Linked DNA regions of Homo sapiens. The protein of the gene in region 1 interacts with the protein of each later gene in a biochemical or structural test. Each region holds a gene or a part of one and is shown in the gene's direction. Other genes may lie near its edges.

Evidence for each region.
Region 2: the proteins of DLG2 (region 1) and PLCB4 interact in a test that uses a peptide from one of them, tested with the Homo sapiens proteins (one large-scale study listed by IntAct).
Region 3: the proteins of DLG2 (region 1) and KIDINS220 interact in a test that uses a peptide from one of them, tested with the Homo sapiens proteins (one large-scale study listed by IntAct).
Region 4: the proteins of DLG2 (region 1) and GAB3 interact in a test that uses a peptide from one of them, tested with the Homo sapiens proteins (one large-scale study listed by IntAct).
Region 5: the proteins of DLG2 (region 1) and FCHSD2 interact in a test that uses a peptide from one of them, tested with the Homo sapiens proteins (one large-scale study listed by IntAct).
Region 6: the proteins of DLG2 (region 1) and SORCS3 interact in a test that uses a peptide from one of them, tested with the Homo sapiens proteins (one large-scale study listed by IntAct).
Region 7: the proteins of DLG2 (region 1) and ARVCF interact in a test that uses a peptide from one of them, tested with the Homo sapiens proteins (one large-scale study listed by IntAct).

The regions. Positions count from the first base shown.
Region 1 is NC_000011.10:83,457,666-83,461,976, reverse strand, and holds part of DLG2 (disks large homolog 2), read left to right. Parts: intron 1-2,052; coding exon 2,053-2,159; 3' UTR 2,160-4,311. UniProt on the Homo sapiens protein: Required for perception of chronic pain through NMDA receptor signaling. Regulates surface expression of NMDA receptors in dorsal horn neurons of the spinal cord.
Region 2 is NC_000020.11:9,075,087-9,079,561, forward strand, and holds part of PLCB4 (1-phosphatidylinositol 4,5-bisphosphate phosphodiesterase beta-4), read left to right. Parts: intron 1-4,475. UniProt on the Homo sapiens protein: Activated phosphatidylinositol-specific phospholipase C enzymes catalyze the production of the second messenger molecules diacylglycerol (DAG) and inositol 1,4,5-trisphosphate (IP3) involved in G-protein coupled receptor signaling pathways.
Region 3 is NC_000002.12:8,827,310-8,831,784, reverse strand, and holds part of KIDINS220 (kinase D-interacting substrate of 220 kDa), read left to right. Parts: intron 1-4,475. UniProt on the Homo sapiens protein: Promotes a prolonged MAP-kinase signaling by neurotrophins through activation of a Rap1-dependent mechanism. Provides a docking site for the CRKL-C3G complex, resulting in Rap1-dependent sustained ERK activation.
Region 4 is NC_000023.11:154,744,339-154,748,813, reverse strand, and holds part of GAB3 (GRB2-associated-binding protein 3), read left to right. Parts: intron 1-4,475.
Region 5 is NC_000011.10:72,841,819-72,846,293, reverse strand, and holds part of FCHSD2 (F-BAR and double SH3 domains protein 2), read left to right. Parts: intron 1-2,553; exon of another isoform or gene 2,554-2,761; coding exon 2,762-2,845; exon of another isoform or gene 2,846-2,965; coding exon 2,966-3,143; exon of another isoform or gene 3,144-3,452; coding exon 3,453-3,673; coding exon of another isoform or gene 3,674-3,677; intron 3,678-4,475. UniProt on the Homo sapiens protein: Adapter protein that plays a role in endocytosis via clathrin-coated pits. Contributes to the internalization of cell surface receptors, such as integrin ITGB1 and transferrin receptor.
Region 6 is NC_000010.11:105,200,261-105,204,735, forward strand, and holds part of SORCS3 (VPS10 domain-containing receptor SorCS3 precursor), read left to right. Parts: intron 1-859; coding exon 860-993; intron 994-4,475. UniProt on the Homo sapiens protein: Plays an important role in modulating synaptic transmission and plasticity in the hippocampus, probably by affecting the trafficking and localization ofAMPA-type glutamate receptors in the postsynaptic density.
Region 7 is NC_000022.11:19,975,059-19,979,533, reverse strand, and holds part of ARVCF (splicing regulator ARVCF), read left to right. Parts: exon of another isoform or gene 1-142; intron 143-453; coding exon 454-637; intron 638-1,458; coding exon 1,459-1,576; intron 1,577-1,947; coding exon 1,948-2,119; intron 2,120-2,810; coding exon 2,811-2,828; intron 2,829-2,856; coding exon of another isoform or gene 2,857-2,957; exon of another isoform or gene 2,958-2,966; intron 2,967-3,776; coding exon 3,777-3,848; intron 3,849-4,475. UniProt on the Homo sapiens protein: Contributes to the regulation of alternative splicing of pre-mRNAs.

The DNA.
Region 1 (4,311 bases):
GTGAGAAAGGGGATAAATTGTCTGACATTTGGCACAGAGAGGGTTCTGGGCCTGGTGTACTTGTGCCCTAAAACCTTCCTGTTGAGAATCCCTAATATCTGTTTCATATACAAGGAGTATCCCTCTGCTTCACCCATTTTGATGTAAAACCCTGGGTTCTCCTGAGAGTTCAGCTGCAGCCAGCTCCCAGGTTCCCACCAGCCCTACCCAAAACCATGGGCAGGAGATACCCCTGAGCTATCTCCTACCATGAAAAGGATTTGAGGCATTGCTACCTCATTAAACTATCTCCCTGATATCATCAGAAAACTTGAAAAACAAAATTTTAGGGCTCAAAATGGTCAGTGTCCAAAGCAGTTACTCTTGAGAAGAAGCTTGGAGGCGTCCGTCCCCAGCTCCATGAGCTTTCATCAGTGTCCCTATCAGCAGCACCTGAACAAGATGCTTAAAACTTCCTCATGTTTCAGTTCACTGTGTCAAGTCTCAACCAAAACTGCTTTTTTTTTCTTTTTAAATGTTTCCTTGGAAACATGAAGGGGAATAGAGGTTTTCTTCTGGAGAGCCTGAGTTCTGAGTTCTGTATTCCTATATACTTTCATAGAACACTGAGTAATCAGACTTTGTGAAATTTGCCTTACACCTGGTTCCCGGAGGTTTAAAAACAAGAACTTTCGAGCTGGGCTTATGCCTCTAATCCCAGCACTTTGGGAGGCTGAGGTGGGTGGATCACCTGAGGTCAGGAGTTCGAGACCAGCCTGGCCAACATAGTGAAACCCCCGTCTCTACTAAAAATACAAAAAATTAGCTGGGTGTGGTGGCAGGCACCTGTAATCCCAGCTACTAGGGAGGCTGAGACAGGAGAATCACTTGAACCCAGGAGGTGGAGGTCGCAGTGAGCCGAGATCGTGCTACTGCACTCCAGCCTGGGCAACAAGGGTGAAATTCTGTCTCAAAAAAAAAAAAAAAAAAAAAAAAAACCCAAGAACTTTCTTCCTGGATTACCATATGTGAAGTTAGATGTTTTATTTTTTACCTTATTCAGAATATAGAAAGTGTCAGTGCCTTAGCAGTTTGTAAATATCTTGAATCAGGTAATATTAAGTAATCTTTCTGTCAGTAACCAAGATACGAGCTGTGTTTCATCCTAAAAGAACATCCAGGTAGGAGAAACAAAAGTGTACATTTTGACAGTGGTTTATATTTTGTATACAATACAATAATATATTCTGAGGATTGTTTTTAAATATCTAAATCATCTTTCAGTAGTAATTTATTTTTAAGACCTAGTGTCATATGGATAATACTGATGTGTTTTGGAAATCTTTCTACAAGATAACTTTTGTTCAAATGAGACAATAAAATGTACTTAAATCTACTCCAAGTGACTTAGTGTTTTAGGAGATACACAACTGAGCAGTTTGTTTATATTTCTTCCTGTTTATGTTTCTTATAAATAGTGGACTTATGGTATTCTCAATATGAATAGCTCTGTATGGTAAAAATCTCAAGTTACCAGAGATTTGGGGAATTAATGGGTTTTCCTATTAAGGGCTTTGAGGGTTGGGAGGCTAACTAAACTTCCCTCTAAAATCTTCATTATTTCCTCGGTGTCTACAATATCTGAATTTCTGCTGCTGCCAAAATAAGTAAATATACAGACTGTAAGGCCAGTTTTCTTTTCTAAATAGGGAGCTCTCAGTCTGAAAATTGATCATTGCCCAGCTCAGTGCCTGGCTCAGAGTAGGCACCCATAAAATATTGGTTAAATAGATGAGTGATAAATTGTCCAGTACTACAGACAGACATGTAGAAAGTGCAAAGACTGTGAATCATTTGTTACTGATCCAGGATATCCATTGAAAGCATTTCTTAAAATCATGAATGTAACTTTGCTTATATGAATTTTCTGCTTCTTCTTACTAATGAAAAATGATATGAAGCTTCCTGATGAGTCATCTGCTACTGATTTGAGCCTCCAATGTGTAAGTGATGATTGTTCTTCACCATCCAGGAAATTATTTCTAATTCTGGGTGTGTTTGCTTTTGTTACAGCTATTGTCCAAGGAGATACTTTAGAAGATATATATAACCAATGCAAGCTTGTTATTGAAGAGCAATCTGGGCCTTTCATCTGGATTCCCTCAAAGGAAAAGTTATAAATTAGCTACTGCGCCTCTGACAACGACAGAAGAGCATTTAGAAGAACAAAATATATATAACATACTACTTGGAGGCTTTTATGTTTTTGTTGCATTTATGTTTTTGCAGTCAATGTGAATTCTTACGAATGTACAACACAAACTGTATGAAGCCATGAAGGAAACAGAGGGGCCAAAGGGTGGGACAGAAAAGACATTGCAGTATGAAGGAAGGCTTTGGTTTGCTCAAAGTGCCAGGTGTAGGGATGAACCTCTGACGGGCTTTCTGCCCAAGAGATGAGATGAGAGCCTCCTCACCCCAGCAGATGTCCAGAGCTGATTTAGCTGCAGAGCTCTCTGTGTCTTTTGCTTTAAAGAAAAATTGCCAGCACTCGAACCTCATCAGCCTTCCCATTACCCACATCTGTAATTGGTACACTTTGAATTTTATAACTATGCACATCTTTTGATTTCTTAACAAGCAAATGAAAGAAAGAAGGAAAAAAGAAAGGAATCCCTTTGGAGATGACATACTATCAGGGAAGGATAAGTGTGTAGTTTTTTGACTGGCATCTGCAAAGACAAGAATTTCATAAAATTTGCAAGTGTATGGAGGACTAACCTCACTGACAGGAGGGGATTCCACCTGGGATTAGCTTTATGATTGTTGATTGCCTATTTTGCCATTTATAAACTGAAAGAAGGCACTAAAGATGAGAATAATTTATACAATAAAAATATATTAAATGTATAGAAACAAATTTCTATAGGTTAAAAAAGTTTTGTGAAATATTTTGTAAAGACTAATATTGAAAGACTAAATGTATGCAACATCAGCAGATGATCAAATTCAAGACCTGAAAGTTGCACTCTCCCTTTTGTTGCCAATGATCTGTTAAGAGCATCTGAGTTCCTTTTAAGTCTGACAAAGACTTCTTCCTCACTTACCTCCCTTCCACATTAGTGATACACTCTCATGCAGCACATCCCTTAATGAGTTGCCCTCATGGATATTTTTGGAAGACATTTGGTTAATGCATTTTTTTATGCTGATGGCTTTTCAGAGACAAACTTATGCAAATGATCTAAAGGGAAGTTTTTGCTTTCCTCTAGTTAAATAACCTGAGCCTGCCATGCAAATAGTTGAATAACTTTGTTCCTAGTTACTGACATACAATTCTTAAAGGACCATTTAGCATTTTGGCCAACAATGAGTAATTAGGATTAGTACCTTTTTGTTTTACAGAGTAACTGAGAGTTTTGTAACATCCAGAGATGGTACTAGAGCCAATGAGAGATCTGTTCCTAGATGCACTATTTCTTTGAGGAAGAGAGAGAAGAGAAGTGTCTGGTTGGGGGTGAGGGGGTGCAGACTTTTTTGTTTCTATGTACAGAGCAAAGAGATAGAGTCACAAGGAAAGACAATTAATGACTTTGAGCTCAACCAACTGAACTGCCTTTCTTGGAGCTGCACCTGGACCAAGTTTATTTTTTAACAATTATAATAACGATGATTTAAAAAAAGAAACCTCCCAAAGCCTATAAACTGAACTAGAAGAGTTGGTTTCCCACTTTAGAGTGGATGGCGACATCAGCATTGCTTTTGCCCATGGTGTTTGGGGAGAGACTTTTCAGTGATAATAACCACTCTACTCTGGGTTCTGTGCATGCCCAGACTAAGCCCCATCGCCTTATTTCTGGGGTACATCCAGACCTGGCAGGGATTCTGCCACACTGTGCAGCAAACCAGCATGTAGGCTGGGTAGGAGAGCAAGAGATAGAGCCATCAGAGTGATGGGGCTTCTTCACAGTAAGAACATCGGAGCTTAGAATGAGAGTCTCTTTCCAAAAACAGGCATTGTTCATCTTACGCTAAACATCATTGTCTGCCTGGCTACAGTCACCAAAACAAAACAGAAATGCAAAATTATGCATCTTCCCATAGTCCTGAGGCTTCCTTTGCCAATGGAAGGGCTAGCAATGCATTCTCCCTCTCATGAAAGTTAAATTTCCAGAGACTTCCTTAGATTGCTCAAAATGTTAAAGATATGTCCATGTCTGCAATTCGCCAGTTTCAGGTCAAGGCCTACTTTCATCAATATTGCTCCCAGAAGTTTTCTGACACCAGAATGCCATTCCTGATCCCAGCTCTATTTTTAGGCCACCACGATAA
Region 2 (4,475 bases), on another chromosome or scaffold:
TGTCCTAATAGCATCTCCAGTTTATACTTGGGGAAACTGAGGTTAGGAGATGTTAAATTAATCATCCCAGGATGTTAAAGTTAGAATTGAGACTGAAACTCAGGTAGGCTGACATCAGAACTCCAACTTCTAACCACCGTACTGTGTATTACCTGTCATTAAGCTGGTACATGCTGCAGAAAGACTTGTTACCATAACAAGTTTTGTGATAATTATTTTAAGTGACTAGGCTGAGATATGACAAAAGCTTCTGGCAATCCTGCTGTGAATATGGAATTGGAATAAGAAATTGAGGATAAAACAATGCATTCTTATCTAATCCTAGGTACTTCTGTTTCTGCAGTTGCATGCCAGAAATCCGAGATAGGGAGAGTACTAAATGCTAATTCGTGGTAGCCTAAACAAATAGTTTTAGTTTTCTGGAAGGCCGGTTTTTACCTGGTGAAGTTCCTCATGGTTTTAATGAGGGTGTGGTGTACTCTGATTCCTCTAAGGGCCAAGTAAGTGAAAGGCCCAAGTGTGGCTGACCAGGTGTCAGAGGCCTTAGGGAGTGGTGAGGCTTGCGCCCATCCAGGGGCCCAATTGTGCCCCTTCCCATGGAGCAGCTACCACTCGGGTCTGACAGGTTTCTGCCAGGTGGGCCTAGGGCCCAGGATTACCAGTGCCTCCACATTTTCAAGAGAAGCATGAAATCCAGATTTATTTGGAGTCTTCTCATTTTAAAATGTTTGGAAATAATTAAAATGGAAAACAAACCTGTCAGCCCATGGTGTGGCCAAACAAAGCATGTTTGTGGTTTGACCCAGGAGCTCCCATGTTGAGCCTTTTGTTAGCTGTAAGTGCTTGGAAACACCGTGTACTAGAACATGTCAATAGTTTTTGTTTTGCCCTTTAATTTTTTTGGCTGTAAAATTTCTTATAAAGGTTGTTATGGTCATTTATTTCCAGTGTACATAGATTTCAGATTCTGAATTTCTGCTTGTTTATTCTCTCCCTATACCCTATTTTTCCAAGCTGTTGGCAAATACACAAAGTTGAGGGGGGAAGGGCATGTTTTTTCCTCCTGTTTCATGGTGCTCCTTTAAAATAAGAACACCTGGCCGGGCGCGATGGCTCACGCCTGTAATTTCAGCACTTTGGGAGGCCGAGGTAGGTGGGTCACTTGAAGTCAGGAGTTTGAGACTAGCCTGGCCAACATGGCAAAACCCCATCTCTACTAAAAATACAAAAATTAGCCGGGTGTGGTGGCAGGCGCCTGTAATTCCAGCTACTCGGGAGGCTAAGGCAGGAGAATTGCTCGAACCTCGGAGGCAGAGGCTGCAGTGAGCCGAGATCACATAACTGCACTTCAGCCTGGGTGACAGAGTGAGACTCTGTCTCAAAAAATAAATAAATAAATAAAAAATAACACCCAAGTGTACAGAAATAGGTGACTTCATTTATGGAGACACAGAGGTTCTCTTGCCTGCCTCACTGATTTGAACTCTAACCAGTCACAAGATGTCCCCCCTGCTATTTGGTAGTAGCTGTATTTGTCCTGAAATATAGAATACAGATCTGTTCCTGCAGACCAGTGTTTCAAGATGCAGTCCGCTTAACAGCCCTCATTTTCCTTGTTGCTTTTAAATGAGAGACCACACTGGATCAAATGAAAATGCAGTTCCTTCGGGATGTGTTTCTCTCATATCTGCCAAGATGCTATTATTGGACAAATCACCAAAGCCCTCTCTGGGATTTCTTTTAATTTTTTTTCATTGGTTTTTTAAAATGATGTAAGTAATACATTAATATGTTCCAATTGAAGTGATAATGCAGAAATATGGAAGCAAAATGCAAAGTACCCTTTTCCACCTACACCCATTCCCAGATACAGTCATTGGCAATAGTTTAGAATGCCTCTTTCCCTCCTTTTTTCTGTACATTTACATGTATAAGTATATATACATGTCATTTTCTTATTACATATACTGGATCATATTGTATACATTTTTGTCTGTGACTGACTTGCTTTTGTCCACTTAACTGTATATCATGGAGAGCTTTCCATGTCAATATGTTAGTTATCTTGTTCTTTCTAACATTGCATAAAATTTGATAGTACGGATGTACTGTACTTTATTTAACCATTCTTCTGTGGACACTATTGCAAACTGAAAGATTCAAGATCTTTGTTCGTAGGTCTTTGTGCACATGTGTGAGAATTTTTTTTGTAGCTAAATTTCTAGAAATGGAACTATTTGGTCAAAAGCCTATGCACACTTCAAATTTTGACAGAGCACTGATGAATTGCCTTTAAAAAAGGTCTCCATGAAATTTGTGGAACCTCTGATTATGCAGCTGAACATAGCCTCTAATTGCAGCATGTCCCACATTGTTACCTCGCTTTACTAATTCAGTAAGATTTCACTTGTATATGGCATACCAGGAAGTGATTTTAGAAACAGACTATGTCCTTAAAATCCCTTGAAAATACAGTTCTTAATCAAAACAAATTGATCAGTTAAGGGGCTAATGTAAAAACTCTTTTAAGAAAGACATATCTTGTAGAATCAGAGAGTTGAAAATCTATTTTCTGATCAATTTGGTGAGCTGTGAAACTCTAGACCCTTCCCAGCAGGGACATGTCCATAAGCACCCTTTAATCTGTTGTTAGAGAAGTGAGGTGGTCCACAGCCAACACAGACAGATCAGACGTTGATACTGGCCTGGGAAAATTAATTTCATTGCTGAAAAATCCTATCCAGGTGTGTTTGTAGCTTTAGGTTTTCAAATACTAGTTATTTAAGAATCTCTTTTGCTTTTTACTTAAAGAATGAGAAGATTAGGAGATAATGCTATTTAATGAGTTTTATTTAATGGATACTTGAATTTAATGTCCTTGACTCTTATTTTTTTATATTTTATTTTATTTTTGAGACAGGGTCTTGCTCCATTGCTCAGGCTAGAGTGTAGTGATGCCATTATGGCTCACTGCAGCCTCATCTTCTGGGCTCAAGCGATTTTCCTGCCTCAGACTCTCGAGTAGTTGGGACCAGAGGCGCACACTAGCACACCTGGCTATTTTTTTCTGTTTTTGTAGAGACAGGGTCTCGCTATGTTGTCCAGGCTGGTGTTGAACTCCTAGGCTCAAGCAGTCCCCCCACCTCAGCCTTCCAAAGTGTTGGGATTACAGGTGTGAGCCACTGCGTCTGGCCTGGCTATGTTTTTTTGAAATGATATGTTGATAAAGGACTATATAAATTAGAAACTATACCTTCTTTTCTTTTCTTCTCTTTTCTTTTCTTCTTCTCTTCTTTTCTTTCTTTTCTTTCTTTTTTTGAGATGGAATGTCACTCTGTTGCCCAGGCTGGAGTGCAGTGGTGCGATCTCGGCTCACTGCAACCTCTGCCTCCCTGGTTCAAGCGATTCTGGGTTACAGGTGTGTGCCACCAAGCCCGGCTAATTTTTGTATTTTTAGTAGAGATGGGGTTTCACCATGTTGGCCACACTAGTCTTGAACTCCTGACCTCAAATGATCTGCCCTCCTCAGCCTCCCAAAGTGCTGGGATTACAGGTGTGAGCCACCACGCCTGGCTGCTACACCATGTTTTCTTTTAAAGAGATATTGGGAGAAATATTGCAGGAAATCTAGGTCACTGATTGATTCCTAACTGTGTTCAGAAGGGACTACTTTGATAACTGTAATTGTTATTAATGATATGAAGTAAATTATTTGTGAATTTTACCACATTCCTTGAAAGACTGAGACTCAGTCAGGGTTAGTGAGTCTTGATTAGATAAATGACAGCAAAGTGAAATACTGTTTCTGTTTCCCAAAGATGGATTTAGTCCTTTCATCTGTTTCTCCAGATACTCATTTTTTAAGAAAAATTCTGGTTTGGTTGGCAGTGACATTCAGATTCTGATTGTATGCCTTCTGCATGTTTATTTTTACAACACACTGTGAATTGTAGAAATATGGTGGGACAGTCATATTTCCTTGGCATTGAAACCTTGCATATTCAAGAAAGTCTGTGCTAGGTTTTGCTCATGGAAATGTTATAGTGTTTCACAGTTTACAGACAATTTCCTTTGATAATGTCTGTGAAAGCACAGTGGAGGGCACCACCTGGTCACTCTTTCAACCTGTATCATTCAGGGCCCTGCTGGGGAACAGATGGCATGTGTACGCCAAGTCCTTTGAGGAGGGCTTGTTAAAGGGACCTTTTGCAAGGTGTGGGCAGGTGTAGGGAATACAATCAGGGTGAATGCTAAAGAAAGACCCAGCAGTGACGGGGAGTTAGTCCTACTCTAAGGAAGGGGCAAGAAAGGCTGACAAGAGCTGTATCCCTTTCTAGAGGGACCCCGTCTGCCTGTAATATCCCTCCAGGGAGACAGAGGGGAATATATATACCTTCCTCACTCTCTGCCTGTCCCCTAAACGCTGGCTAGTGTCTTCCATTAGCCGAACCCAGACAGAAGCCAGAGGGCAGGAG
Region 3 (4,475 bases), on another chromosome or scaffold:
GTCTGGCTGTGTGTGCCGGGTCAGTTCCCGACAGTCAGGGGCTGCTTTTCTCTCTCACCTCCTGTTGTGTAGGCATTGTGCTAGATATAAAGCAGATCCTGCTGCAAGAACTTCTAGTCTAAGGGAGATGTGGAGAGAGTGAGTAAAATGGAGAGGAGAGTTGAGTGTGATGTGAGCAGTCTACAACTAGATGTATACACAGGTGTGGAGGAGCCCAGGGCCTGGCCCAGCTTGGGGTAAGCAGCCAGTCAATGAAGGCTTCCAGAAGATCTGTTAGAGCCATGTTCTTAAGGATGGGTAGGAGCTGTTCAGGCATATATACGTGGAGAATGGACTTTCTAAGCAGAGGGGGCATTAAGTGCAAAGGTCTGGAAAGAACAAAGTGTGGGGCAGTGAAGGAGCTGCAAGTAGATCAGTCTGGCTGGAGCTGGAGGTGTAGATGTGACTATGTAGAGGGTGGGAGGGATGGGGCTGAGGAGGGGAGAAAGATAAGGCTGGAATGGTAAGATGGGGCCAGATTGTGAAGAATCTGCATGCCCTCATCATAATCAAGAATTGAACTTACTGAGTTTTCACTCTGCTCAGTGGAGAGCAAAGCTTTCCGTAGGAATTGTGTATTTGCATCTTTACAATGGCTTTAAAAGCCTTAGAAGGCGTAAGTTCCTTGAATAACTTGTAAGTAGTAAAGCTGTCATCTGTCCTCCCAACCTTGGTTTTAGGAGAGATGTATTGTAGGTCACTCTTGCTTCAGTGTGGCAAATGGATTGCAGGTGGCAGGCCTGGAGAGAGGAGGCAAAAGTTGCTAGCCTGTCACATTGATCTGGGTGAGAGATGGTGTAGTAGAAGTTTTTAGGATTGATGCCTAGATCACAACTGTTTACTCTTTTCTGGAAACAGTGCCAATATGGTGTGACCTTGTAACCCCCTCCCAACTTTGTGTCTCTAGTTGCTTGGTTCTGGGTGTGCAACAGATCCAGCCTGGGCAGTCAGAGCCCTTTTCTGGGACTGTTGGATCTGGGAACAAAGAATAGCCTGCTTTCTCTGGTGTTAGAGACTATCTGATTTAGGCCAGGTGCGGTGGCTCACACCTGTAATCCCAACACTTTGGGAGGCAGAGGCAGGCGCATCACTTGAGCCCAGGAGTTTGAGACCAGCCTGGGCAACATGGTGAAACTTCATTTCTACAAAAAATAGAAAAATTAGCTGGGCATGGTGGTGTGCACCTGTAGTCCCAACTACTCAGGAGGCTGAGGTGGGAGGATCGCTTGAGCCCTAGAGGTCAAGGCTGCAGTGAGCCATGATCGTGCTACTGCACTCCAGTCTGAGTGACAGAGTGAGACCCTGTCTCAAAAAATAAATAAACGATCTGATTTGAGGCTGGATGGCTGTGGGAAGCCATATTTCCCTTTGTGTAGAAGTAGTTGGTCTAGAAGGAAAGTAGATTAAGCCAGTAGAGAAAGAGAATCCTCCTGGCATTTGAGGTCCAGTGGCACCCACTCTTCCTGTAGTGTGGTTATGGGAAATAAACCATTATCCTTCAAATACATTTTTCTGTTTTGCTTAAGCTAGTTTAAATTAGTCTCTTGCAACCTTAGGGGTCTTGATTAGTATAGATGGTGAAGGTCTAAACTAAGGCACTGAGTGTGGGGTTGGGTGATCTCACACTTTAGGGGGTAAACTGGATGAAAAATGGTAGCTGTGTGACTCAGAGGGAGATGGGTGCCTTGGTAGAGTAGAGATGAGGATGGTGTTCTACATGGAAGGAGCACATTGAGCATAGGCGGGAGTGTGGAGCAGCACTGGGGGAGTGTGGTGAATTTGAGTTCTTCTGCTTGGCTGGGCTGTGGGGTGAGCTGGGGCTGGTATAGAGGGAGAGCCAGATCCTGCAAACCTCACTGAGGCCTTAGGCTTGATCCTAGAAGGAGTGGGAATAAATGAAGGTAGGTGTTGGTGATGACTGCTAATACAAACCCTCACTGCTTTCTAATGATAGAAGCATCACATTCCAGAACATGTAGGAGATAAAGGTTTTAAAGAAAATAAAAATTACACTAATGCCCATCACCATTTGTTCTTTTTTTATTTCCAGTATTTAAAAATGTATACATTTAAAATAGCTGAGATGCTGTATATATAGCTCTTAATCTTTTACCTCACTTCTTCTATCATGAGCATTTTTCTGTAACACATTTTTTGAGACATTTTGATGACTGTATATTATCCTACTTTGTGAATTTTTATAATTTATATAATATCCATTTCTAAGATTTTTGTTCTTATGGATAAAATTGTTTTACTTAAAATCTTAAAATTTTGTTCATGTTTCTCATGTTTTTAGAATAATTCCTAGAAGTGCAACTATGGGATCAAATAACATCATTTTTTAAAATAATAGTTTTTCACCCCAAGAGTATAAATTCAAGTTGTTCTGAATATATACTCCCTAAAAGTAAGGTATACTGATTTATACTTTACATGTAATAACATTCACCCTTTTTAATGGACAGTTCTGAATTTTGACAAACGAATGATTGTGTAACTGCCACAACAGTCAAGATATAGAACAGCCATTAACTCGCCAAATTCTCTTGTACTCTTTTGTAGCCATCTCATTCCCCTGCCTTAGACCCTGGCAGCCCCGATCTGTTTTCTGCCCCTGCAGTTTTCCTTTTCCAGAATGCTATATAAGTAGAATCATATAGTGCTATAGTTTCTGCCCTCTGGCCCCCAGAGATAGATTTCCTTCCTGTGTCAAAACATATTCACTCCATCGCAAGGCCTCCCCAAAAGTCTCAGTTCATTTCAGCATCAACCCAAAGTCCACAGTCTCATTTAAATCTCATCATCTAAATCAGGTATGAGAGGGTCTGGGTGTAGTCCATCCAGAGGCATGATTCCTTTCCACCTGGGAAACGCAAGAATCAAGTTATCTGCTCCAACTTAGAGTTAGGGAATGGGCATGGGATATCAGTTATAGACAGTCCTGTTCAAGGGTGGAGGAAAAGGAAGGCAAAGAGGATTCACCAGTCCCAAATAATTTCATTTTCATAACAGCCAAAGTTTTCAATTTTGACGAACTCTGGTTTATCAGTTTTCTTTTTTTATGCACCATGCTTTTAGTGTTATATCAAATCTTTCTTAATCTAAGGTCACTGAAGTCATCTATATTTTCTTCTAGAAGTTTTGTACTTTCAGACATTATATTTAGGTCAATTTTGAGTTAGCACCTGTATGTGGTACAAAGTATGGATTGAGGTTTATTTATTTGCATTTGGATGTCCAGTTGAATATAATAAAATTTCTACTCTTTTAGAACTTATAGTTATGGTAGACAGACAATAAGTGAACAATATGTCATTTTTTGGATGGTGGCAAGTGGTGTGGAGAGCAGTGAAAGCAGGACAAAGGGTTGAGAGTGCAGGGTGACAGTGAAGCCTGTGTGGGGTCGGTACCCTGACATCCCACATCCGGTGAGACTTTGTAACCAGGTGACCTGACGGGGTCAGGGGGTAAGCCGTGTGCATGTCCTGTGGAAGAGAATTTTAGGCAGACAGAAAAGTAGCACAGAGGCCTGGCGAGGTGGGACGGTGCTCAGTGTGGCCATGCAGCCAGGAGGGTGAGAGGGGGTGGTAGGAGCTACAGTCACAGGTGTCACACAGGTGAGAGGCTTGCCACTGAAGAGTTATCTTGGCCAAGGTAAAAACATTTGATTTTACTTTGAGCACCCCGAGAAGCCCTTAGAGGGCTTTGAATAAAAGAGGCCATGCTCTGACTTAGTACTGCTCACATTGTGGTTCTTCCTCAGTGTTGTCAGTGTCACAGGGAGCTGGATAAAGATGCAGAGTCAGGGGCCCCACTCAGACCTGCTGAGTCAGAATCTCTGACGGTGGGGCCCAGGAATCTGCTTTAAAAGCTCTTCAGGTGATTCTGATATATGTTAAAGTTTTAAAAAAAGTAATGTAATTTTAATTGACAAATTATATATATTTAGGGGTACAATGTGATGTTTTGATACATGTATCCATTGTGGAATGATCAAATCAGGCTAATTAACATATTCATCACCTCCCATACTTAATTATTTATTTGCAGTGAGACCATTTAAAATCCACTCTTCCAGGTAAAGTGGAGGCAGGGAGGCCAGTTAGGAAGCGATGATAGTGACGCAGGTGAGTCACGGTGGCTCGTCCAGGGTGGCAGTGATGAAGTGGTGAGTAGTAGTCAGATGTGAAATGTATTTTACAGGTAGAGCCAAAAGCATTTGCTAATAGATTGAGTGTAGGGTGTAAGAGGAAGAGGTAAGTCATGAACAATTTCAATGCTTTTGGCCTTGGAAGAATGGACCTGGAGCTGCCGTTTACTGGCATGGTGACAGCAGGAGGAGCAGGGGAGCATTTTGGAGTGGTGATGAGGAGGGTTTGGGGATGGATGTGGAGTTTGGTGTTTGGATAAGTTAAGATGGAGGTGAGTGTGAA
Region 4 (4,475 bases), on another chromosome or scaffold:
TCCGAACTAGGCCCTGTGTTACAGGCTGGGAAGACAGAAAAAAAAGACTTGATTCCAGTTTATAGTTTAACATTTATAATAGTAACATAGCAAAACTAGTTATTGGCACAACCAGGACAATAACTCAGTTATTCGTGCTGCCAGGCCAGCAAGCAGCACTCCATCAATGTTTGCTGTTACAAATGGAAGCTCAGGCAGTTTTTAGGTAAACCTTTCAGTCCAAAGTAGGCTTGTACTTCATCCACTTGAATCCATCAGTGAAGACAATCAGAAAGTTATTTTTTATCACTGGTCTTTTAAAAGATAGTTATTTTCATCTGTATTTTTTGTTTCACAAGAAATATATTCTTATGTTAATAAATAGAATGAAAAGTGAAGACCCCCTTTAAATTTCCCCTACCCCGCTACCTTCCCTTTGCTCTCCTCCTTATTCCACTCCCCAACCCAGGGATAACAACTGTGAGCCGTTCAGTGAGTACCATTCTACAAAATTTTTCAGAAAATATATAATTTTCTTTTTGCACAACTGGGATCATATTCTACTAACGGTCCTGCAATTTGCTTTGTTCACAAACATCCTGGACATCTTTCCAGGTTAGTACATATAGATTTACTTCATTCGTTAAAGCATTGTCAAATATTCCTTGTAATACATATAATATAACAATTTCTCTATTGGTGAACATTTGGCTTGCATCTATTTTTATCCATTTTAAAGAGTCCTATAATAACAGTGATAATAAAGCTATAATAGTTCACTTTTATTGAATGTTTATATGTGCCAGGCACTACACTAAGAACTTGTATTAACTCATTTAGTTTTCAAAACAATGCCAAGAGCCAGGCACTGTTTTTGTCCCTGGATATAGGTTCTCTGGATATAGGTTCTTTGTTGCATATTTAATTTGCAAATATTTTCTAGCAGCCCATAGTTTTTGTCTTTTCATCCTCTTTTGAAGAACTAAAATTTAAAAATTTTAATGAAATCCCCAATACAATTTTTCTTTTATGAATCATGGATTTAATGTTAAATCTAACAACTCTTCATCTAGCCTAAGATCCTTTGTCACCCAGCCTTGACCTCTTGGGCTCAAGTGATCCTCCCACCTCAGTCTCCTGAGTAGCTGGCACTATAGCTGCTCCCCACCATGCACTGCTAATTGTATTTTTTGTAGAGAGGACAGGATTTCTCCATGTTGCCCGCAGGCTGGTCTCCAACTCTTGGCCTCAAGTGATCCTTCCACCTTGGCCTTCTAAAGTGCTGGGATTACAGGCGTGAGCCAATGTACCTGGCCTCTGAAAGTTTTATAATTTTATATTTTATATTTAGATATTTTATATTTAGATCTATGATCCATTTTGAGTAAATTTTATAAAAGCTGTGAGGTTTGTATCATGGTTTCTTTTCTTGCATACCGATTTCATTTGTTCCAGTACTATTTATTGAGTAGACTGCCTTTATTCCATTGATTTACTTTTGAAACATCATCAAAAACCAATTTACCTGAAGGGCACAGTGGCTCACGCCTATAATCCCAGCACTTTGGGAGGCTGAGGCTGGAGGATCTCCTGAGGTCAGGAGTTCAAGACCAGCCTGGCCAACATGGTGAAACTCTGTCTCTACTAAAAACACAAAAAAAATTAGCCAGGCATGGTGGTGGGCACCTGTAATCCCAGCTACTTGGGAGGCTGAGACAGGAGAATTGCTTGAACCCCAGAGGTGGAGGTTGCAGTGAGCTGAGATCACACCATTGCACTCCAGCCTGGGCGACAAGAGCAAAACTATCTAAAAAAAAATCCATTTACCATATCCATGTAGATCTATTTCTGGATTCTCTAGTCTGTTCCATTGATCTATTTGTTTTATGCCAACAACATGCTGTTTAATGACTAATGACTGTAGCTTTACAATAATTCTTGAAATCAGGTTATTTTAGCCCTCAAACTTTTTCTTTCTCAGAGTTGTTTTGGCTATTTTAGGTCCTTTGTTTTTCTATGGCAATTTTAGGATTGGTTTGTCAATTGATTTCACTGACCTCATATCCCATAGCCTTGCTAAACTCACTTATTAGTTCTAATAGCCTTGTCTGTAGTTGCAACCTGCAATACTATAAATGTTGCATAGAAATGACGAGAGCAGACATCCTTGACTTTTTCTTGATTTTAGAGGGAAAGCATTCCATTTTTCACCTTTTAAGTATGTTAGCTGTAGGCTTTTTGTAGGCACCTTTTACCAAATTGAGGAAGCTCCCCCATCTTGCTAGTTTGCTGAGGCTTCTTCTCATGAGTTGGATTTTGTTGTGTTTCCTGCATCTATAAAAATGATGATATGTTTTTTATTTTTTAGTCTGTTACTATGGTGAATTACACTGCTTGATTTTAAATGTTGAACCAACCTCGAACTTATGGGATAAACTTCAGTTGGTTGTAACATATTATTCTTTTCATATATTTCTGGATTTGCTTTGCTGATAGTTTGGCTGAAGATATTTGTCTCTGTCCATGAGGGATATCGGTCTGCAGTTTTCCTTTTTTATGCTATCTTTGGTTTTGATATTAGCATAATGCTGGCATCATAAAATGAAATCAGAAGTTCTCCCTCCTCTTGTATTTTCTGAAAGATGTTGTGTAGAATTGGTATTCCTTCTTCCTTAAATGATTGGTAGAACTCACCATTGAAAACATCTGGGCCTATACTTTTCTTTTTGGGAAGGCTATCAACTACAAATTTTCTTTCTTTCTTTTTTTTTTTTTTTTTTTTGAGATGGAGTTTCACTCTTGTCACCCAGGCTGAAGTGCAGTGGCACGATCTTGGCTCGCTGCAACCTCCACCTCCTGGGTTCAAGAGATTCTCCAGCTTCAGCCTCCCGGGTAGCTGGGATTACAGGTGCCCACCACCATGCCTGGCTAATTTTTGTATTTTTAGTAGAGACAGGGTTTTGCCATGTTGGCCAGGCTGGTCTCGAACTCCTGACCTCAGGTGATCCACCCGCTTCGGCCTCCCAAAGTGCTAGGATTACAGGTGTGAGCCACTGGGCCTGGCCAAATTTTATTTCTTTAATAGATATAGGGCTATGTGGGTTATCCATATCTTCTTGAATGAGTGTCGTTAGTGTCTTTCAAGGCTTTTCTCTATTTTGTCTAAGTTCTTGAATTTATTGGCAGAAAGTTGTTCATTATGTTCCCTTATTATCCTTTAAATGCCTGTATGATTTGTAGTGATGCCTCAGTTTTCATTTATTACATTAGTTTTTAGGAACCATCCTTTGGTTTCGTTTATTTTCTCTACTTTCTCCCTGCTTTCAATTTCATTAATTTATCCTCTTATCTTTATTATTTTCCTCCTTTTGATTGCATTGGGTTTAATTTAATCACTTCTTTATCTAGTTCCTTAGGGAGGAAACTTAAATTACTGATTTGAGACCTTTCTTATTTTCTAATATAAGCATTTAGTGCTATAATCTTCCTTTTTTTTTTTTTCTGAGACTGAGTCTCGCATTGTCACCCAGGCTGGAGTGCAGTGACACAATCTTAGCTCACTGCAACCTCTGCCTCCTGGGTTCAAGCAATTCTCCTGCCTCAGCCTCCTGAGTAGGTGGGATTACAGGCACCTGCCACCATGCCTGGCTAATTTTTGAATTTTTAGTAGAGATGCGGTTTCACCATATTGGCCAGGCTGGTCTTGAACTCTTGACCTCAAGTGATCCAGCCCACCTTGGCCTCCCAAAGTGCTGGGATTACAGGCGTGAGCCACCACACCTGGCCAATCTTCCTTCTAAGCACTACTTTAGGTGCATCCCACAAAATTGGATATGTTGCATTTTCATTTTAATTCATTTCAAAGTATTATTTAATTTTCCCCTGAGATTTCCTCTTTGATCCAAGGGTTTTCTGGAAGTTTATGTAATTTCCCAATATTGGAATTTCTAGATATCTTTCTATTATTAATTTCTAGTTAAATTCCATTATGATCTAAGAACAAACTCTATATGATTTATATTCTTTAAAATTTGTTAAATGTATATCATGGCCCACAATATAGTTTCACTTCATGTACATAAGCACTTGAAAAAATATGTATTCTTCTGTCATTGGGTAAAGTGTTCTATAAATGTTAATTAGGCCAGGTTGGTTGATAATGTTATTCAGTTCTTCTGTATCCTTACTGATTTTCTGTTCACTTTTACTCTCAGTTACTGAGGGAGGAATGTGAAAGTTTCTATCTGTAATTGTAGATTTGTCCACAGTGTCCACATTTCTACCTCCAGTTCTATTTGTTTTTACTTCACATATTTTGATGCTCCATTTCTAGTTATACACATTTGGAACTACTATGTTTTCTTGGGGAATAGAAGCCTTTTTCATTATTTAATGTCTTGCTTTGTCCCTGATGCTATTCCTTGTTTTGAAGTCTATTTTCTTCTTTCTATTGTCTTTTTGATAATAGCTTTCTTTTGATATGTGCTTGCACGGTG
Region 5 (4,475 bases), about 11 Mb from region 1:
CAGGAGAATTTCTTGAACCTGGGAGGCAGAGGTTGCAGTGAGCCGAGATGGCACCACTGCACTCCAGCCTGGGCAACACTGTGAGACTCCGTCTCAAAAAAAAAAAAAAAAAGAGCAAAAGGAGGAGCAGCTTACTCATCATGAGTAGTCTGGGAAAACATATGCGCTCAGTCTCAAGTCAAAAGTAATCGTAACTACTTATCTATCTATCTATCTATCTATCTATCTATCTATCTATCTATTTATTTGTAATCCCTTCAATAACCCTATGAGGAAGATATTATCAAACACCCCATTCATTCAACAAATAGTGCTTGAGCACCTTCCATGTATCAGTGCTGTGGGCTTTTCTAGGCTCTGGGATATAGCATTGATCAAAACAGACAAAAATCTTTGCCCTCATTGAGCTTATATTCTAGTACGAAAAAAGAAAACTGAGGTTCAAAGGTATCTTACAGTCACTTGCCCATAAAAATATACTGAAGCTGGACTTAAACCCACAGTAATCTAAGTCTGCTCATCAGATAGGAAAGAGGGAACAGAGCCTGATGGACGGAAGAACACCTATAAAAGCACAGAGGCAAGGAAGAACATGGTATGCTCAGAGAATAGAAATAGTGTGCAGGGGCCAAAGCGTCAAGAGGCCCACAGGGACCAAACTCTGCAGGGTCTTGATAGCCATGCAAAGAACTTGACCTTGTTAGGTGGAAGAATTGGTCATCACTGCTTTAGGATGGGATGATCAAGCTAGTGTCTGCTTACATTGGACAACTAGTGCTGCAGTGTTGAAAAACTTGCATGGACCTCCATGGTTTTTGTTTGTTTGTTGTTGTTTTTTTTTTTTTTTTTTTTTTTTGAGACAGGGTCTTGCTCTGTCACCCAGGCTGGAGTGCAGTGGTGTGATCTCGGCTCACTGCAACCTCTGCCTCCCTGCAACCTCTGCCTCCCTGATTCAAGTGATCCTCCCACCTCAGCCTCCCAAGTAGCTGGGATTACAGGCACGTGCCACCACACCCACCAATTTTTTGTATTTTTCATAGAGACAGGGTTTCGCCATGTTGCCCAGGCCGGTCTCAAACTGCTGGCCTCAAGTGATCCACCCACCTTGGCCTCCCAAAGTGCTGGGATTACAGACGTGAGCCACCTCACTCAGCCTCTCCATAGCTTTTTATAAGGGCAGCAGTTTATTTAAAAGTGTACTACCTCCCTGGTTTGCTGTCACATACATTAACGTCTGGTCGTGTTGATACTTTTTAGGTCTTGCCATGAAAAACATTTTTATTACAAAAATGCCTTTTGCTGGCATATTCAAGGCATAGTGTGGTTTCAGAGTAGTGAAGGAATTCCATTGGAAAAGCTATCAAGGGTAAATGAGTGGGGTTTTTTCCTCAATATTATTTTTCTGTCTCAGGGAGCTATGGCAACATCCAGAATCTGGATTTTGATGAAATGTTTTAATGTTCATAAAATGGGAAATTGATCTTGAAAATGACCCCTTTTTTGCCTTATTTTTGTTTGTGTAACTTGGAGTTAATTTTACATTTTGAGATTGTGAGATTTTAAAAACTTTATGGTTTTAGGTGATGGTTTTAACCCATCTTGGGACTTGGGGAAAGCTTTTAAGACTGTTTTCTAGAGAGCCAGAAGCCAGCAGGCCCCTGTCTATTACACATGACAGGCAAGACTGTTAGGAAGCAAAGCCACACGGACTTTCCAGCCCCTCTGTGGAGCCTCAGAGCGTTTACAGATTTGGCAGTCTCAAGGGCAACATGTGGGTGGCTGATGCTGGTGGATTGCTGCTGTCAGGGATAATAAAACCATTATGGTTAGCAGCTTGTACGGTAGCACGCAAATGGATCAGCTCAGTCTCCACACAGTTAAGTTGGAGCATAAGAAATCCAAACCATGACTGATCTCAATCATTTCCTTTCCTACAATTTTTTTCTTTTGGCCACTGCTTTACAGTGATTCCAGATCAATCCTAGGCACTGCACCCACTATCATCAAATTCACGTACATAGTTCTTTGCATTTTCACTGCATGCTTGTCCATGGGAGCCCTCTGGTAGCAGTTCCAATTCAGTGCCTTCTCGTTTGCCTTTGCTTCCCAAATCATCACAGTTCTGTGCTTATCCATCCCACATTGACTCACATCCTCCAGAAAATGGCAGGATTGTCATTTCAAAGAAATGGAGGCATCAAGTTGAATAACTTGATACAGAAGCTGGAGTTGGAACCCAGGTCCTCTACTTCCAGGAAGTGCTCTCTTTTTTTGTTTGTTTTTTTAGAGACAGGGTCTCGCTCTGTTGCCCAGGCTGGAGTGCAGTGGCTCACTCATGGCTCACTGCAGCCTCAACCTCCCAGGCTCAAGCGATCCTCCCACCTCAGCCTCCCAAGTAGTTGGGACTACAGGCATGTTCCACCATGCCTGACTAATTTTATTTATTTATTTACTTATTTATTTATTTATTGGTAGAGATGGGGGTCTCGCTGTGTTGCCCAGGCTTACATGTTCTGTTCATTGAACGTCATTGCCTCTTGAGGATTCAGTTTCTTGAGTTTTTGTTATGGTTTTATTCTGTTTAGTTTTTTAAAGTAAAACTTCACCTCATTATGAAAGTTTTACAGCATTTAAATTTTTATGTTCAACATGTTTCTCAAAATCATTTCAATATTTTGATCCCCAGTTTTTGTCATGATCAGCTCACATCTGCTCCTTATCTAACCTTTTTAATTTTGTCCATGACCATCCTACACTGCAGGCTTCTCAACCAGATGAGTTGACCATTGAGGAACATGAGGTGTTAGAAGTGATTGAAGATGGAGATATGGAAGACTGGGTAAAGGTATATTCCTTTGCTCATATCGCCCTTTCTTGTGACATTTTTAGGAGTTTGTTTTGGTCTTTGTTGTGCCCTGTCTAAATTGTGTGTGTAAACTTGTTTTGTCACATGTCTTTTACCCAGGCTCGAAATAAAGTTGGCCAAGTGGGTTATGTGCCAGAAAAGTACCTACAGTTTCCCACCTCGAACAGCCTCCTGAGCATGCTGCAGTCCCTGGCCGCTTTGGACAGTCGGTCACACACGTCCAGCAATTCCACGGAAGCAGAACTCGTTTCAGGCAGCCTCAACGGAGATGCCAGTGGTAAAGACTGAAACAAGGCACTCTTTATTTGGTCACGTTTGACCTAAACTGTATTGCCCTGGAGTAAGCCTTCAGTAGGATAAAAAGCACAACTTTCCTCCTGTCCTATAATATGCTTTTCTTTATATGGTCACGTTTGTCCTGCACAGTAGAACCCTAAAGTTAATCATTCATCAGTGAGTAAAAAAATTACAACTTTAATCCTATTCTGTATGATGCTCTTTTAGTTGTCATGTGAGCATAGGGGTGGTTGCAAAAGCAACCGGCTGTTAATTATCTTACCAGATTTGTTTTTCTCTTGCTCCCTAGTATGTTTTGTGAAAGCACTTTATGATTATGAGGGCCAGACAGATGATGAGTTATCTTTTCCTGAGGGAGCAATAATCCGTATCTTGAACAAAGAAAACCAAGATGATGATGGCTTCTGGGAAGGGGAATTCAATGGGCGTATTGGAGTTTTCCCATCGGTGCTAGTGGAAGAACTTTCAGCCTCAGAAAATGGTGACACTCCATGGATGAGAGAGATTCAGGTACCTGAGAGGGGAGACAGTTGAATTAAAAGATGTTTAAAGAAAATTGCTCCCAAAGGGTCTGTGGATCCACACAAAAGTGGGCTGCAGTCTCTGCCTTACCCTCACCGGTCCTTGGTTGCCAGTGTCTGCACAACTGCATTTGGGAAACCAGAGACTTGTCAGTCAGTCCCTTGTGGAATGTGGCCATCCTCCCACACCTCCATCTTCCCACATTCTCTCTCTTCCTTGAATTGGTTAACCAAAATGCCAAATTATATGTGACATACCAAAGATCGTTTTGGTGGAGAGAAAGAAACAAACCGAAGAGGGAAGGCGTTGCTCTGTGGTTAATTTACGTAGTAAAACTCTTAGCTGGCTCTCTCTCTCCCTCACTGTCAGAGCCTCCTTGCCTAGTCCAGGTCCTGCCAGTCTATTTCAGAGAATTAATGAGCCTGCCAGAGCCCCTAATCCCCACTCAAGTGACCCTAGACTTAGTTCATCACAGGGAAACAGCCTTTAAAGGAACCTCTAATTCAGTCAGAGTTTAGTTTGTCCCCTCAGGGATCTATCACTGCAGGCCAGACAGGTAGAGGAAGAAGGAACGTGTTTGCCGATCTTGTTTGCGTGGTGATTGTGACCCCTTAGCCTAACATGCACAAAACCTGGGGAAGTCAGAAATTCAGCAAAGTATTTTATCTTCACCCCAAAAAATCCAACTTGTTCCTTTTGTTGTTGTTGTTCTTTGCTAAGTTTACTGAATTGACTAATTTGGTACATTTTCAATAGAACCCTAGAGAGTAGCTTCACTTGATAACTGTTT
Region 6 (4,475 bases), on another chromosome or scaffold:
GAAACACACTCAGGTCCAGTAGGGCCAGATGATATTTAGGAACTATCTCGCACCCTGGGATCCTATCTACTAATTGAGGTCACTGAGCTGCCTGGGGGAAAGGTGTTGATGATAACCTGGGGTTTTAGCTCTATCCATGGAGAAATGAGCTTTTTACAGCTAGAAGGCCTCCAAGAGTTGCTCATTTTATCTGCCAATGTGGAGGGCGAGAGCATTTCTCAGACTAGCCTGAAATAAGGGACCCAGAGCACTGGGAACAGGTCCACTGAGAAATGGTGTCAGGGTGGGTAGGTCTAGCAATGGTAGATATTTACTGCTGTGAGAAATAGGCAGACTTCTGCTCCAGAACCACTGGGTCCTTGTAATTTGTATCAACTTCTCCTTTCTTTGTTCTTGACTGGGAATTAAGATTTGGGCATGGTCGTTTATCATAGAGAAGGAACATTTTGGGTCAACTTCAATTTCCCTCTGAAGACCATGTGAAAAATGTGCCATAAATGGGCTCCTTTCCACTAGAATTGCTACTGAAGCCATTTGGGCAAATGTACCTGGTGGTCTGCAAAGATGCCTGGAGTCCTTACATTCTCTATGGAGGTGGAGCAGAAACGGGATGATGTAGACATCACTGGCTTGGGTGGGTGGAGGGTAGAAGTGGGCCCACCTTCCATAATGTTCCTTTTATGTGGTAGTGAAAGATTAGCACTTTTATTCTTGAAACTCCTGGATCATTACTGAGAATGAGACTGCTACATAAAGTACCTAAATGAGAATGAACAGGCTAATGCTTCTTGTTGACAACTGGTTTATTTCACCACCTTTTTGTTTTTCTGTCTCTCACACTATGGAATTTCTCTCTAAGGGAGAGCCTTGTGTCATGGGAGAAAGGAAAATATTCAAGAAACGTAAGCCAGGAGCTCAGTGTGCCCTGGGCCGAGACCACTCAGGATCAGTGGTCTCAGAACCCTGTGTCTGTGCCAATTGGGACTTCGAGTGGTGAGTTGTTTGGCATTTCATTACCAATTCCAACCAGGTCTTCACCTGTCTGTGGGGTGGGGTGGGGTGAAGATGAAGTTAGGAGAGGAAGCATGACGCAGAGATAGGAGGTGTATCTGCTGGCCTGTGGGCCCATCCATCCCAGTTACTGGGCCAGATGGGAAGTCTGCATTCCTGGAAGGAGGACAGGCTGAGGCATTTTCACAGAGAGAGTCACTGATCTATCAGAGCAGCATCTCTCAGGGGGCTTCTTCTCATCTACACTGAGCAGCTGTATTGGAAACTACTGGAGAAGTTGTGCTGGGCATTGACAGAGGTTAGAGAGCTACTGCCTTGCTGTTGCCTCCAGCCACATGCACTCTCACTGTGCTCTTCTACGTGACCTCTCTCTTGTTTCCTTTTTCTCCCCCTAATAACAGCAATGGAGAACAACCTTAAATCTCACTTAATGAAATTCAAATCTCACCTATAGACAATTACTCCCAAATTTCCAAATATTTACCTCTGGCCCTGGCCTCCCCCTTCTCTTGGTTGGACACATATGTGTCTGGCTGTCTACTCAGCATTCATCTCCTCTTGATTCACTATCAGGGTTATCAAACTTAAGGCAGCCAAAGCAAAGCTTTTCTTGAATCCCCTTCATTGGAAGGAGTCCCTTGCCCAGTTTTTCTAATTTCAATAAAACACACAGCTATCCACTCAGTTGCCAGAAGGGTTTGGTTTCTCCTTTTCTTTCACTGTCAGATCCAGGCCATCTGCAAGTCCTTGCAGTTTCTACCCTCAAAACACATTCTAAGTCAAATCACTTCTTTCCATCTCTCAGCTGTTTGTATCACTCCAGGAATCGAACTCTCTCCACATCCACCCTTGTCACTTAAAATTCATTCTCCTCACAGCAACCGAGATGGTATTTTAAAAACTCAAACCATATCTTATCACTACTACACTTAGAATACTCCAATATCTTCCCCCTCACTTAAAATCTAATCTTCTTTCCTTAGTTTCCTCCATTGTAGGTGATTTAGCCCTGCAATTACCTTTATGTCAAAATTCCTTACTGTTCTTACCTCATTCACTGTATTGCAACCGCATTACCACCTCCTGCACCTTTATTAATCCTGGCTCATTCCTAGCAGAGGGAGCAGAAAATGCAAGAATTTCTTCCAAATCTTAGTATGGCCGGCACCTTTGAGTCACTCATGTCTCAGCAAAAATATCAGCTTCTCAGAAATGCCTTCTGAGACCACCTAATCTCACCTATACCCTGGCACAGTCTAGTATATCCCTGTTTTATTATCTCCTTAGTATTAATTGCCGTACAAAATGAACATGTTTTTGATTGTTCCACTATCACCTATCTCTCCAGTAGAATGTAAGTGCTGGGAATGCAGGAGTTTTAGACTTTCCTTGTTTCTGCATCCACAGCGCCTGGCCCGCTGTAAACATTCAATAAAGAGTTGTAGCATGTTTCTGAACATTGTTCCTTTTAGGAGGGTCAAAAATCTCCCCAATTCTGGGAATGGGTACATAGCACTCCGATCCCAGCTGGATGAATTCTTCCCCTGCATCACAATAAAAAGCTAAAGTTCAATTTGATTATTTTGGTAGCCCATCTCAGCTTTGTCTTTGTTAAAAGACAAAACTAAGGGCTTGGGCATTGGCCTCTAAACTTGGGAGGGGCAGGGCAATGATGGAGCTGCATTTGGGCTTCTCTGGCATCAGATAGTCAAAGTAAGTCCAAGTGGGCACAGAGCAGCTGCCCCTGAATGGCAGCCTCACTTCTTCCAGCCTCATTTCATCCAGCTGGTTTTTTAGCTTGATTTGTACTAGAAACTATCCTTTGTTTCCCACTTTCTGCTAGGAATATAACTGGAAGCCAGAGGAGTGACTCTGCTCTCCACCTGTTCTTTATCCTTAAACTCATACCTAGGAAAGCATGGCTTCAGTGAAATTCATGAAAATGAGATATACTAAGTGTAATTTAAGTTTGACTAGCAGAGTCCTTTCTGTGACCATTTTGAGCCCTTGGCAGCAAAGTATATTTTCACATTGTGAAAAATATTTTCAATTATTAATCACAATTAAGCAAAAATAGTCACAGCAATGAGTGCAGTAGGCCACTCAAAATTATGGCTTGTGACATATTGATGTCAACCTGAATATTCAGAATATTAATTTTAGGCTTCCTTGTGTCCTTCTGCAGACTAACTCCATTGAGGCACACTGTCTTTGAATTTGTCATGATACATATTCTCCTGTGTCTCTGTGTGCCATAATAGACCCTCACCCATTGTTGGGTAGCATCACAAGTGAGAAGAAATAAGAACTGTAAAATATTTTCTCATCAGTAATTCCATTAACATTTACTGGTCTGGGCAAAAATTCTAGCACTGATAGTCACAGTTTTTGACCTTGGCAAGTTTTCTTAATCTTTGTGACTTCATCTCTATAGCTGCAAAATAAAAATACATGACATCTACCGCATTGGGTCCTAAGGAAGAATAAATGAATTCATATATTAATATACATCATTAATATAGATAAGGCATTTATCCTACTGATGTATAACATAGAAATACAACATAGGCTAGCTATTGCTGCTGCTGTTGATGCTGTTGTTATTCTTACACCCTAGGGTTAAGTGGTCCCTATGGTATTTTTGGAAGTAAACCAAAGCTTATACATCCAAATAAGCACTGTTTTCAGAGTAGGATCTTGGGGTCTGATCCATTTACTTCAGTACTGGTGGCATTGCTCAAAGTATTTCTGAACCCTTCTTTAGGGAGTGCTGTCAGAATCCATCTATAAGTAAAGCACGGTGGGAGAGGCGAGGGGGAGCCTTTACACGGCCTTCTGTGGTTCTCATACTTGCACTGGTAGAGGTACCATGTGGATCCAAGACGCTGTAATGTCAGGATCTTTATTATTGCCTTTTAATGAGAAGAAACATCTTGGATATAGGTTACTTGATCAAGGTTACATCCCTGGGAGAGAATGAGCTGGGGTTCAAGTGCAGATTTAGTTAAATTCCACATTCTCTCCTCTACACCCTGCCATTTCTCAAGAAATCAAACAAGTCTTTATTATTTTAGATTCATTTTGCTTCAGAAAAAAATAAAGTTTCCAAGTTTACTTACTCTAAAATTAAAACTCATCCCCAAGGACTTGGGTTTACTGCTGTTGATGAAATATAAGGTAGAATGTTTCCTCAACACTAAAACAATTTCCAATGAAGTAGTTTTGACCATTGGTACTAGAATCATAATAGGTGTATGGTCTCCAAAAATATTTTATAGAATTTTTTTTGATATATAATGTGGTGTATGTTTGCATTTTTATAGCCAATCACACCTCATATTAAAAAGAATATAGAGAACCACTTGAGTAAAGTAGAGAAGTAGACAAGGCCAGATGCTCAGTTTGTGGTCATAATCTCAGAACACAAACAAAAAAAAAACTCACACGACCTATAAAGTTTTTTT
Region 7 (4,475 bases), on another chromosome or scaffold:
CGCTGCGCCCCTCGGGCATGTCCCCTCACCTCCTGCCTTCACACCTCCTGCCCCCACAGAAACTCTCCTGGGACCCACCTCCTTGGTTCCCACCCCAACCGTGCAGTGGTGGGGCTTGTGCCTTGTGAGAGCTGAGGGACAGGTAGGGTCACCGTGTCTCTGTGAGGCCCTGTGGCCTCAGGAGTGTTAGTGCCACCTGCCACATGGCAGGGAATGGGTGGGACGGGACAGCACTGCCACACCCTCCTCTGCACCTCCTCCCCTTTGGGGCTCCTTCCTAGCTGGAAACCAGTACTGGGTGTCCCCCGGAACCACTCACGGCTTTTGTTACTTCCTACTGTTCTGCATGAGCTGGGACATGAGGAGAGTGGGACAGGTCCTGAGCGTGGCCACCTGGGGAGGTAGGCAGGCGGTGCATATGGTCAGCACAGATTGGCCAATCGCACCCCACAGGCACCCTGTGGAACCTGTCATCCTATGAGCCCCTGAAGATGGTCATCATTGACCATGGCCTGCAGACGCTGACCCACGAGGTGATCGTGCCCCACTCAGGATGGGAGCGTGAGCCCAACGAGGACTCCAAGCCACGGGACGCCGAGTGGACAACTGTCTTCAAGAACACGTCGGGCTGCCTGAGGTGTGGACCAGACCTGGTGCTAAAGCCCACATGCACACCAGGCCCCGTCCTCGTGGTCCCAGATAGTGTGGAAGATGGCGGCGAGCTTAGGAGCGCCAGAGCTTAGGAGCTTCAGAGCTGTGGCACAAGTCCTGTGGATGAGAAGTGGGGCCTGATGGAGCTGTCCTCACCCCCAAGTGGTGTCCCAGTCTTCCCAGGGGCACCCTCTGGAGGGGTCTCTGTGGTACCGTAGCCCTGCCCAGCTCTCACCTACCTTCCCATCACTTGACAGCCAGAGGGGGAGCTGGGACCTTCCTGTTCATCTGCCTGGGAGGCTCATCCCAGCCACCTGTGACCTCTGCCCTTCCCCTCCTACCCCTGGGAGGCCCTGCTGACCCCACAGAGTCCTGGGTCCCCACAGTCCTGCTTGTCCATCAGGGTGTTCCCGCGCAGCCCTGCAGGCTCTTGACCTTGGGGTAAGGTGGGGCCCAGAGCTGCCATTGGGGTGGCGAGGGACCCAGAATTGCCCTTGCACAGGTTCAGGTCTCTCTGAGAGTGCACCTGTCCCTTTCCAGGTCAGCTGGGAGGCAGGGAAACCCTGTCTTTCCCTGCCCAGCTATCCCCAGCCAAGATAGTTGTCTGCCAGGGCTCCCCTCCTGAGGCCTGGGGGCAGTTAGCTTCTCCCCCTTCACTGAGCTCCAGACTGTGGGGTCCTTTCCCATTAGTGCTAGGAGGGCAGCAGCAGGGCCTATTTTGCAGATGAAGACAAGCCCACAAGGCCAGGGTGGAGCCAGGGAGTTTCTGGTAGCCAGGGGTCACCTGGCCTGCTCTTGGCCACACAGGAATGTGAGCTCCGATGGTGCTGAGGCCCGGCGGCGACTCCGGGAGTGTGAAGGGCTGGTGGACGCGCTCCTGCATGCCCTGCAGTCGGCTGTGGGCCGGAAGGACACTGACAACAAGGTGGGCAGGGACGGTCACAGCCTCATACCAAGGGCTGGAGAGACGATCATGCAGGTCCCAGGAGGCTGGAACTGTGGGAGCAGCACAGGGGAATGGGCTTGTGGGTCTGGGGTGGCGTTCTGGGTGTGGCCCGCCTCGCAGTGACCACACTGAAGTGGGCACCGTCCTGCAGGCAGAAGGTGTGCCGTGAGGGCAGAGGCTTCCTCCCATGGACCCTTCCTGGCGGTTACCGCCCTTTTGCTCCCCTCCACTGAGGACTCCCTGTTCCTTTGCTCCCGGTGCCCTCATGCACACCAGCTGTGGCCAGTCTTTCCTGAGGGCCAGCCCTGTGCCTAGGGTGCCCTGCCCCACCCACTCACCTCTCCCTGCAGTCGGTGGAGAACTGCGTGTGCATCATGCGGAACCTGTCCTACCACGTGCACAAGGAGGTGCCCGGGGCCGACAGGTACCAGGAGGCCGAGCCCGGGCCCCTGGGCAGTGCTGTAGGCTCCCAGCGCCGGAGGCGGGATGATGCCAGCTGCTTTGGAGGCAAGAAGGCCAAAGGTGGGTGGGGCGGACTGGGGTATCATCTCTACCATCTCAACTCCTGCCCCAGCGGAAGGCTCTCTGTACACCCACAGCAGCCCATCATGGAGGCTAGAGGACACCTGGTCAGCCCCCAACAGGCAGGCAGGGAAGCCAGGAGTCAAGGAGGCTGGACTGCCCTGGGTCACATGGTTGATGGGACCCAGGTCCAACCTTCCCCATCTACACTGTGGGACCCCCAGGGAGTACACAAGGGAAACCAACCAATGCCCAGACCCAGTCTTTCTACTCCGGGGAGAGTTCCACTTGCCCATGAGTTGGGAAGGAGCCATGGCTGCTGCCTGCTCACTGTTCACAGAATAGCTGTAGACTGCCACCAACCTGTGGGGCAGCCCCCCATCTGCCTGGGCAAGATGCCCTGCACACCTTCTCTACTGCACTAGCAGGGTGTAGGTTCCCAGGACCTCCCCAGCAGCTGTGGGGGACCTGTACGCCACCTGCCCCTGCCCCACTGACCCCAGGCCTCCCTCTTCTTGTACCCCTGGTGGGTGCTCAGTGCCCAGAAGTGATGGGATGAGGTTCCACATGCTGCCTGCTTGATCCAGGGTGTGCAGTGGGAACCTGAGGCTTCCGGGAGGGCATGGGGGGGTGATGAGTGCTGCCTGTTCAGGCTCCTCTCCTCTCTCCTCTGCTTCCTCCGGCCTCCCAGAGGAGTGGTTCCACCAAGGTGAGTCCCTTTTTATCCTGCTCTCCAGGCCTGGCGTGTGCAGTGGGTACCTGGGAAGAGGCGAGCACGTTCCAGCCCCAGGGCCCTGCCCCACCCCTGGCTTCATCACTCGGGCTGCCATCTTTATGACAGTGGCAGGTGGGAAGGCCACGGGGCTCATTCTGTAACCTCAGACTTGCCTACCTGGGCAGAGTTGGGCAGAGCCAAGAGTGGGCAGGGCCCGGGGGTACTTATCTCTAGGGGCACCAAGGAGCAGTCTGTTTCTCTGATAGAATGGGGCATCATGTGGCTCGGAGGGATACAAGGGTCCCATGAGGGTGAGCAGGGCAGGGACCCCAGGTCATCTGGCTCCACTCTGCTGCCTTCTGAAGGGGTAGAAGCATCATCTGACATGGGGAGAGTGGTTGACAGTGGGCTCACTGTCACAGACGTGTGCAAGCCAGGGCTACACAAATGTTAGGTGGGCTGCTGTGGGGTTTCTCCTGGCTAGTAGATCCTGGGACAATGTCCTGACCCCAGCTGGGGGAGTTTCCCCCTAGTTCTGCCTTACTGTGTGACCCAAGTGAGTCTTGTCCTGGTCAGCCTTCAGTTTCTTGGCTTGTATCCACCTACCATCCAGCCAGGGCTCCTGGCTTCCCTCAGTCTACATACCTGGCAGTTGCAAGGGAGCCACCGGGAGGGTCTGTGGTACAGCTCCCAGCACCTGGTGGGAGATGAGTCCTAGGGGCAGGGCTGGGACATCCCCAGGCCCCACTGCCACCAACTCCTACCCCTAGGCTAAACTGTCTGCCCAAACTCTGACAACGGTGCTCCACTCCCACAGGTGCCCAGGCCTGGACATGGGGGTGCCTTTTGGGGCCTGGGTAGGAGAGAACTGTGCCCAACTCTCCTGATACACCCATTCCCCATATGGGGTCTGCCTCACCTCCCACCACCTTTCCCTTCCAGGAAAGAAGGATGGTGAGATGGACCGGAACTTTGACACGCTAGACCTGCCCAAGCGAACTGAGGCCGCCAAAGGTGAGTGGGCTGAGATGAAGCCAGCTCCACTGGGGGATGTCTGGGCTCAGGATTGCCCTGGTAGTGAAGCTTTGAGCCATCAAGCAGGCCTGGAGGGCCTCAGGGAACAGATGGGGAAACAGGCCCCTAGGTGCAGGATTTCCTGGAGGGTGATTCAGCACCAGGACACCTGCTGAGGGTTTAGAATGGGAGGAAGTGCCATGGGTCATGTCAGGCAAGGTTGGGGGAGACAGGCACAGAGAGGCCGAGGGCTTGCTCGGCCTCACGGTGCGTAAGAGGTGGGAAGGTTTGGAGGGACGCCTCCAGTGGAGGCAGGGCCTCCTGTGTTAGCCACAAAGCTGAGTTATCTGAGGGGGCTGGGAGCCAGGCGGGCATGCTCACATCCAGGTTCAGAGGCTGGGCCAGACGAACACCTGCAGGGACAGGGCAGTGCCTATTGGGCTGTATGCTGGGATCTGGCTTGAGAGAGAGGTCTGTCCTGGTGGGGCCTAGCCAGTTGGAAGAGCCTGCATGTCACCAGGGTGGAGGGCTCCAGCCGCAGGAGGGCTGTGGGGGAGTATTACAGGCAGAGCAGGGCTGATGCAGATACCCCAGCGGGGAGTGTGCTTGGAGTGTGTTGGAGCAGAA